Homo sapiens: one gene and its partner. The protein of the gene in region 1 purifies or fractionates together with the protein of each later gene. This does not show direct contact. Each region holds a gene or a part of one and is shown in the gene's direction. Other genes may lie near its edges. The genes, in order: BEND6 and RBPJ.

Region 1 (4,514 bases):
CTGGTTTCTTAACACGCATATAATTAATATTGGTACTCAGGAAAGAGAACTTCTTCTGACCTTGAGCGTGCGCGCTAAATAAATTACCTCAGAACGAAAGTGGTGCGATCTCAAAACAGCATCTGGGGAGAAAAGAGATAAATGAGACTTCATTTAACTCCTTGTTCTTCACCTACCGAGTGACTCATGACTTACCTGGGAGACCAGGGTTGGGAAAGCACATCGCAGACTCCTGGAATTCGGTGGGACATCCTGGGGGAGGGAGGAGGAGTCCTGGGGCCATCGGTCTCTACGTGATTTCTCCGCGAGAAGTTTGCATGAAAGTTCTGGGGGAGTTGGGGAGCCCCGAAGTTTCCATGCCTTACTTTCTTACCCCTACGCTCCAGCGAAGGATGCGTGAAGGCGAGGCTGGCGCAGCCCCGGACTACGCTCAAATTACCCTTAAGGCTTTAGCAAACTGACTAAAAATTTGAGTTCTTTCCTCCCCTCCCTGCCCTCGGCATCGCCGTGGTTATTCAAACCTGGGAGACTGGAGGGCGGAGGTGACGGCAAAAAGGGCAAGGGGCGTTAAAGAAACGCACTCAGCCTGGGGAGTGGGCAATGATGGGGCTAGGGGCAGCCGAGGAGAAGGGAGCGAGCCGCGCTTCACTCTCCAAATCGGCTTAATTGTTCCTGGTAGCCCGCAGAAACCCGTCGCGGCGTGTCTTACCTCGGCTTCTTGAACGACCCGAGAAGACCGATTTCATCGGATGCCTCCCTTTCTGGAGCTTGCGGTGCCAGCAGCAGAAGAAGACGATGGTGGCGATGGTGCCCAGCAGAAGCAACAAGAGGAAGAGGGCACATTGGATGCTGTAGGGTCTCAGCAAGACGAGGAAAGCCGCGGCGATCATGGTGCGGGCGAGGCGAGGGCGACTCGACGGCGGGGCTGGAGGGCGGCGGCACAGGCACCCGCGCTGGGCGCACGCCGGGACGGCGGGCACGGGTGAGCGCGGCTCAGCGCGTCATGCCTGGCGCTCGCGGCCCCGCGCCCAGCCCAATGGCTGCGCACCCCGCGCCAGCCGCGCTACGCGAGTGATCCAGGGCTGCGGGGAGCGCTTGCCATGACTCAGCAGACAGCGACGAGGCTGCGACTCGGCGGCTGGGATCCTCTCCCCTCCCTCCCCAGGCGCCCCCGCCCCCGTCCGTGCGCAGCCCCCGGGCGCAGCCCCGCCGGGGACGCGGCGAGTGGGGAGGAGCAGCGCCGCCGCCGCGGCCGCCCGGGCCCCGCGCATCGTCCTGCGGCCGCCGCCGACCTCAGCATCCCAGAAGCCGGGCGCACGTGGGTCGGGGCGGGGACGCGGCGCTCAGGCTGCAGCCGCGGCAGCCTGCGGGGGGCGGGAATGGGGCGCCGCGGCGGGGGCTCGGCTGATGACATCACGGCCAGGCTGCGGCAGCGCGGGCGCGCGGACATGGCTGCGGCGGTTTCGGCGGCGTCCGCGGGCTGCACCCGGGCCTGAGAGCCCAGCGCCCTCCCGCGGGGCCGCCCGCCAGTCCGCGCCGTCCGCGGGTGCATTGGCCGGGTGCCTCTAGCTTCCCGGACACCCGGAGCTTCCGCCTATCCAGCCTCCCTCGGCCAAATTGCTGCGGAGCCCGTCGTCAGGGGGCGCCAAGGAGCCAGGGGGAAAACCGAGAGGCGCTGACAGGAGCCTCCCGGCGGTGCTACCCTCCACCTCCCACCTCCCTGCGCCCCGCCCCGAGGTTGGGGCTTTGAAGAATGCAGCCGGGTGAGCTATTGCTTGTGGGGGTTTCCTCGCACTCTGAAGCGCGAGCGCCGGGAAGGGCCTTCCCTGGGAATTGGGATACTCCAGGAACGGGAGGCCCACTCCTCTCCAAGCCTCTCTAAACTAGGAGCGCTCCGGGGTAGTACGCTCTGGTCGGCAGAGGTGAACTCTTCCACCCCAAACTTGGTGCTTATCTCGCAGCTAAGAATTGGGCACTTTCGATCTTCTTGTATCCCTGGGTTTGCCCTAAAACCCTGACTCATTTAGTGCATTTGAAGGGCAAGGCGATTTCAGATTTAGGGACCTGGCAGATGAAGTAAGTTGGTACTTGGCTTATAAACATTTGGGGGAGAAATTTTTTAGGGAGTGTGAGGCAATAGTGATCTCTCACACTTGCAGGCACACTCTGTCTCCCCTTTGTCCCCTCCCCACGTTTCTTCATAACCAGCAAAAAGTATATGGCAGTTGGTGGCCAGGGGATTTAACACTGATGCAATGCCAGCACGGAAGGTATAGCGAGAGCGCTGCAGTGTGCCTTTCTGCGGACGGCCACGGCCACCTGGCCAGGAAGCGGCTGCTGCAGCAGTCATTCTGCGGCATCTTGCGGCCTTGGCGGGCGGTGCTGTGCCGCGTTCTGCTGCCCCCAAGGCAATGCTGGCTTTCCCTGTGTGGGGCTGGATTGTTTGTTTCATTTACTCGCATAAGAAAACTTTAATTATAGTGACAAGGTAACACTTGACTGCATTTGCGGAGTTTCTTATAACAACTGTATTAGCCTCTTTTTTGGAATATTTAATAGACTGAAGAAATTGTGTCATAAAAATTTATAAAAATTTGAAAAGCAGGTAAATAATTGGGAGGAATAAAAGTTTTATTTGCTTGTAGTGATCTCAAAATCAGTGTTGTTTTCCAACTATACAAAACCGTACAGCTCTGCATGAAAGCTTAATCATTGATGTCCTTAAAGCCAGTAACATATTACCGTGTGTAAGTATTAAACCTAAAAAGGCATTGGTTAATGCAGTCTCTTAGTGCCAGATTCATAAGCATGGAAAACAACAGATACGTTTTGTTTACAGCTGGTTTCCTTAAACAAAATAAACATTCGAATTGTTGACATGTTGCATCTCATTCATTCAGTTGTTTTGGATTGAACTCAGAAGGGCCCTTGCTTGGAGACACTGCATAAGGTGGGAATTTTGAATGGCAGCATGTAGGCTGCACTGAATTCCAGGATAGGCTTCATGGGTCTCTAGCACTCAGAGTGGGTGACAGGTAGCACTACATCATGTGCATATGGCTAAAGGTTTCTTGATACCGCAGCCCACTGCAGTGAGAAACTATTCAACAATTATGCAGAGGTTATTGAAGAAAATCCTGAGAGTTTGCAATGTGTGGCACATCAGGAAAGGAAGAATTCTCCACCGCATTGACTCAACAATGGCATGGTGGAGTAATTTTAAACAACAAAACTGAACTAACCGTGTGCAGACATTGGGGGAAATAACTAACAGAATTTTGGAAGGTCATCTTTATGCTTCTCATTGACTGAAATTTGTAAGTGAGCTGAAATAGCCTACGTATCCTTGAACAGAAACATGTCAAAGACACACAGAATAGTATTCAAATTGCCCCAAACGCTATATTTTTTTAACAACAAAAAGCAACTAAATAGCTATTATGGTTTTCTGAGCTATGACTTTAGCACAACTGTTATCATCCTGCGTCTTGCTGCAGCCATTTATAAGTTTCAAGTGCACACAAGAACATCATTTATCTCTCTTGGCAGGCAAATGCTTAACTGCCATGCAATAGGATTATAGATATTTCTTTTTAGATGCATTCATTTCTGTTCTTTCCATCAGTTGTCTTAAAGATACTAATAATAAACAAACCAAATCCTTGAAAGAATTTAGTATTTAGTTCCATTGTTATTTTCTGATTTGTTTGTTGCTAATTTATCATTTTTTCCAAATAACAGCATACATAGTATTAATTGCTTCTGTCTGTGTGTTTATGTGGTGCCTAATGCATTGCGGAATTCAATAAATACTAAATCAGCCAAGCAGTGCTTTTTGGAAGTTAATTTAGTAGAAATTATACCTTGCCTTCCTGGTAGGTTTTTGCTTTAAAAAAAGAATAATTGACATTGTATAAAAGTCACACACAAAAAAAATTGTTAAGTTTGAGGATAGGGATGGAGGGGGAGAGCCATGGCCCAAATCTTTCATACAAAAAAATGAAAATTCATAATGGAAAAGTATGTATAATTTGTTGACTTTTTTTATGAGAGTAAGTTATCATTGTCACCCAAAAGAAGACAAAATAGTTGGGAAAGATAGCTAAGAGAGTTTGATACCACGTATGTAGAAGATGGTCCATTATATAGCCCTTCTTCCCTTTAGATTCTCAACCAAATTGGGAATAGACACAAGGAACCATAAGGAAATTAAAATATTGTGTTAACTCTATTCAAGATAAAGTCAGATTGAAGAACACAGCTTAGCCTCAAAGCCAAAATGGGGCATCTTATTCCTTTTTTCTTACTTGGCATGCTCACCCAGTCCACAGCTGAAAAATGACAGGCCTCCCCAGCATTAGGGCAGGAAGGAACCCAACCTGTTCAAATTCCGGCATAAACACCAAAGGCAAAGGGAAGCCTGACACTTTATAATCCATAAGGCGTTCAGCATGTGTGAGCAAGAGACAGGCCCATGTGTGAGAAGGGAATTTTATACATCACTCCTGCCCACT
Region 2 (3,520 bases), on another chromosome or scaffold:
TTTCTTAATTGTTAAATATAGATAATTAGGAAAGTTGATAAGCAGACCGCATTATTGGATGCAGATGATCCTGTGTCACAACTCCATAAATGTGCATTTTACCTTAAGGATACAGAAAGAATGTATTTGTGCCTTTCTCAAGAAAGAATAATTCAATTTCAGGTATGTTTTTAAATTACTGGTGAAATCTAAAATGTACAAACTGTGAGGTTAGCAGCTTGCAAAAATATGAAATTTTCATTTGCTGTTAATTATATACAAATACATGAAGCTATACACAGATATTTATCTCAGGTATGAGCATCCTTAACACACAATCCTCAGACATGCAAGCAATCCTTCCTCAAGGAAGAACTCAAAATTATGAAAATGTTCTCAGAGAAAACAGTTAACATCTAGTTCCAGGGTTCTTAATTGAAGAACAAAGAGCCCCTCAGGATATCCAAAAATAGATTTTCAGTGCTCATTGAATCCTCTGAAATTGTGTGCAAACATTGTATAGACAAAGCATTTTTCTGGGTGAAGGCTCAAAATCTCATCAGATTTATGTCGTGGTTTCCGAAGATAGTAATGATGACATGCTTTGAAAGCTAATGTTTTACATTTACTCAGAAGGCTTTCATGAGGTTATGACATGGGCAGATGATTTAATAAGACAGTTATGGTTTCATGTGAAACTCCTTTGCAGAGAGATGCCCATACACACTGATGGGCATGCTGAGTCCCTGGTCTAGGTGTGTTAAGGTAGGGGTAGGGGCTTTGCCTTCCCATCTTGATTCCCTCCCATGGAACATGCATAAGCTTCTAGCTGTTGCCTAAGCATGAGGAGTCCCATTGTCTTTCTTAGGAGTCCTTGAAGAGTTTTAAACAGCCATTTACATCACAGATATTGATCTGCTGTTAATGAAATTGTACCTGCATTGGTATACTCATAATGGTTGTTCTGAAAGGTATTATTATTTAATATGTCACTGAAATAGTTTGTATTATAAGAAAAACTGCTGTCTATGGGGTTTCTGTATTAGCATTCTGTTTGTGTTTATGTAGGGATTGGCAAAGCACCATACTTTAGAAAGTTTATAAGTTTTTACTGAGTTATCTTCTTATTAACTCTTGTCTGAGGGTTACTTGGTAAAATTTTCTTATCCTATTAATACAAACTGTATAAAACTTAGTTTCTAAACTTCTTTCTTTATTAGGCCACTCCATGTCCAAAAGAACCAAATAAAGAGATGATAAATGATGGCGCTTCCTGGACAATCATTAGCACAGATAAGGCAGAGTATACATTTTATGAGGGAATGGGCCCTGTCCTTGCCCCAGTCACTCCTGTGCCTGTGGTAGAGAGCCTTCAGGTGAGAACGCCTAGTCCAAGTTGGCCTTCAGCTCTTTGCAGCTACTCTCAGCTGTGACCTGGCATCATTTCATTTCATGGGAGTTTTGATTTTTCTCCAATCGTCTGATTAGGGGATTTTTATATACACCATTTGTTGATTTAAAGAAAAAAAAACAAAATTAGGAGGAGCGTACTTGCCAGAAAATTTAAATGTAAATAAACTTGTATGTTATCTTGAAATGTTTTTAGCTAGCTTTGTAATAAAAAACATTTTAATTGCCCTTTTTTAAAAAAAACAAATGAAAGTTGAATGAGAATCTAATTTGTGTACTTTAATGAAAAATGAAAAGTTTTCTCAGTGTTGTGATTTTCTGTGAATTGCAGTTGAATGGCGGTGGGGACGTAGCAATGCTTGAACTTACAGGACAGAATTTCACTCCAAATTTACGAGTGTGGTTTGGGGATGTAGAAGCTGAAACTATGTACAGGTACTTGATAAAACTTTTTGCATCATCCAGAGGTTGTGAGGGGTGTGGGTACAGGAGATTCTTTCCTGGCACTGATTGTAATGTATTAAACAACCTTGTGTTAAGTCTCATTTTTAACATGTACTTTGCTTTTTAAAGTGTTTTTAAGTGATTTCTATTTCCTCCTCAGGTGTGGAGAGAGTATGCTCTGTGTCGTCCCAGACATTTCTGCATTCCGAGAAGGTTGGAGATGGGTCCGGCAACCAGTCCAGGTTCCAGTAACTTTGGTCCGAAATGATGGAATCATTTATTCCACCAGCCTTACCTTTACCTACACACCAGAACCAGGGCCGCGGCCACATTGCAGTGCAGCAGGAGCAATCCTTCGAGCCAATTCAAGCCAGGTGCCCCCTAACGAATCAAACACAAACAGCGAGGGAAGTTACACAAACGCCAGCACAAATTCAACCAGTGTCACATCATCTACAGCCACAGTGGTATCCTAACTACCGTCTTTTTGCTAGGACTTAAACTGACTTGAGTGTGGCAAAAAGTTAACAAAAAAGGAGAAAAAATGAACAATCGTTTGTGGTTTCTTGGGAAAACTTTTCATACCAGGTGATACTATTCAAAAACCCCGTTGTCTCCCTGCAAGTGCTGATTTGAAATGCAGAAGCCACAGTAAAAAAAAAAAAAAAAAAAAAAAAAAAGAAAAAAAAATCAAAATGTATAAATATTGGAAATCAAGTTTTTCAGCTGTTTTGTTGGTTGGTTGGTTGGTTTTTGTTTGGTTTTGTTTAAATGGGCAAGAAGTAAATAATGTGGCTGGAATACAAGTTGAACAAACTAGAAGACACAAATCTAACATAGTTTTTATGGACCAAGGAACTTGTATATTGTATAAGCTTTAGTAAAAGGTACATTTTCACCATACCTTTTTTTATATCACGGTATTATAGTACACCTTGTTACCAAATAGGTTGTTCTCTTCCCCACCCACCTTTGAGCTTTTGCTCTAAAATACATTCAGGTTCCAAGCCTGACCATCCTTGTTTAATCTATCATACTCTTCCAGGTTTTTTTTTTTTGGTCTAAGGCTGGAACTTTTTTCTTTTTTTTCAGCTGAAGTCTTATGACTTTTCATGAGTCAAAATTGTTTGGATTTCAGCAAGTCAAATCTTGCAAAGGCCTGCATATTTTTTTTAAGATTATATGAAGTCTGTGCAAAAGCTTTAAAAAAATGCCTCTGCCTTGCCTGCAATACATGCAATGTATGTTAACTTAGTCTCTCTTCTCAGACACTGTTGGTAGTTATTTCTGTGTTTTCCTTTTTTTAAAAAAAAATATGGACTTATTGTGGTTATCTGAGAGGTTCTAACATTCACATGCAATTTGGTGTGGCCATTTAGCTATTAATGAGTTAATGGCGCAGAACTTGTTGATATTTGAAGTGTTCTCTCCCCTTTTCCCATGACGTAAATACATAGGTGTGTTCCAGGATTTGTTCAGGTTTTTCCCCCCTCCTAATCTTGTACATAACTTGTATTATGTGTAAGTTAAACATTTTATTTTGAACTTGGAATGTTCCCAGTGATTTCATTCAGCAGGGTATTTTCTGCCTTGTTGGCAAGTGACAAAAAATATGGGAAGTATTTGCTACCAGTTGGTAGATGGTGCCCTTAATGGTAGAATGAGGAAAATGTCCGCAAAAGCATGT

What was found.
Region 2: the proteins of BEND6 (region 1) and RBPJ purify together in Homo sapiens (pull-down; one study listed by IntAct). This does not show direct contact.

The regions. Positions count from the first base shown.
Region 1 is NC_000006.12:56,953,698-56,958,211, forward strand, and holds the start of BEND6 (BEN domain-containing protein 6), read left to right. Parts: upstream 1-1,409; 5' UTR 1,410-1,763; intron 1,764-4,514. Other genes in the region: DST (dystonin), read right to left, coding at 88-122, 710-890. UniProt on the Homo sapiens protein: Acts as a corepressor of recombining binding protein suppressor hairless (RBPJ) and inhibits Notch signaling in neural stem cells, thereby opposing their self-renewal and promoting neurogenesis.
Region 2 is NC_000004.12:26,428,699-26,432,218, forward strand, and holds part of RBPJ (recombining binding protein suppressor of hairless), read left to right. Parts: intron 1-21; coding exon 22-162; intron 163-1,199; coding exon 1,200-1,355; intron 1,356-1,720; coding exon 1,721-1,824; intron 1,825-1,993; coding exon 1,994-2,309; 3' UTR 2,310-3,520. UniProt on the Homo sapiens protein: Transcriptional regulator that plays a central role in Notch signaling, a signaling pathway involved in cell-cell communication that regulates a broad spectrum of cell-fate determinations.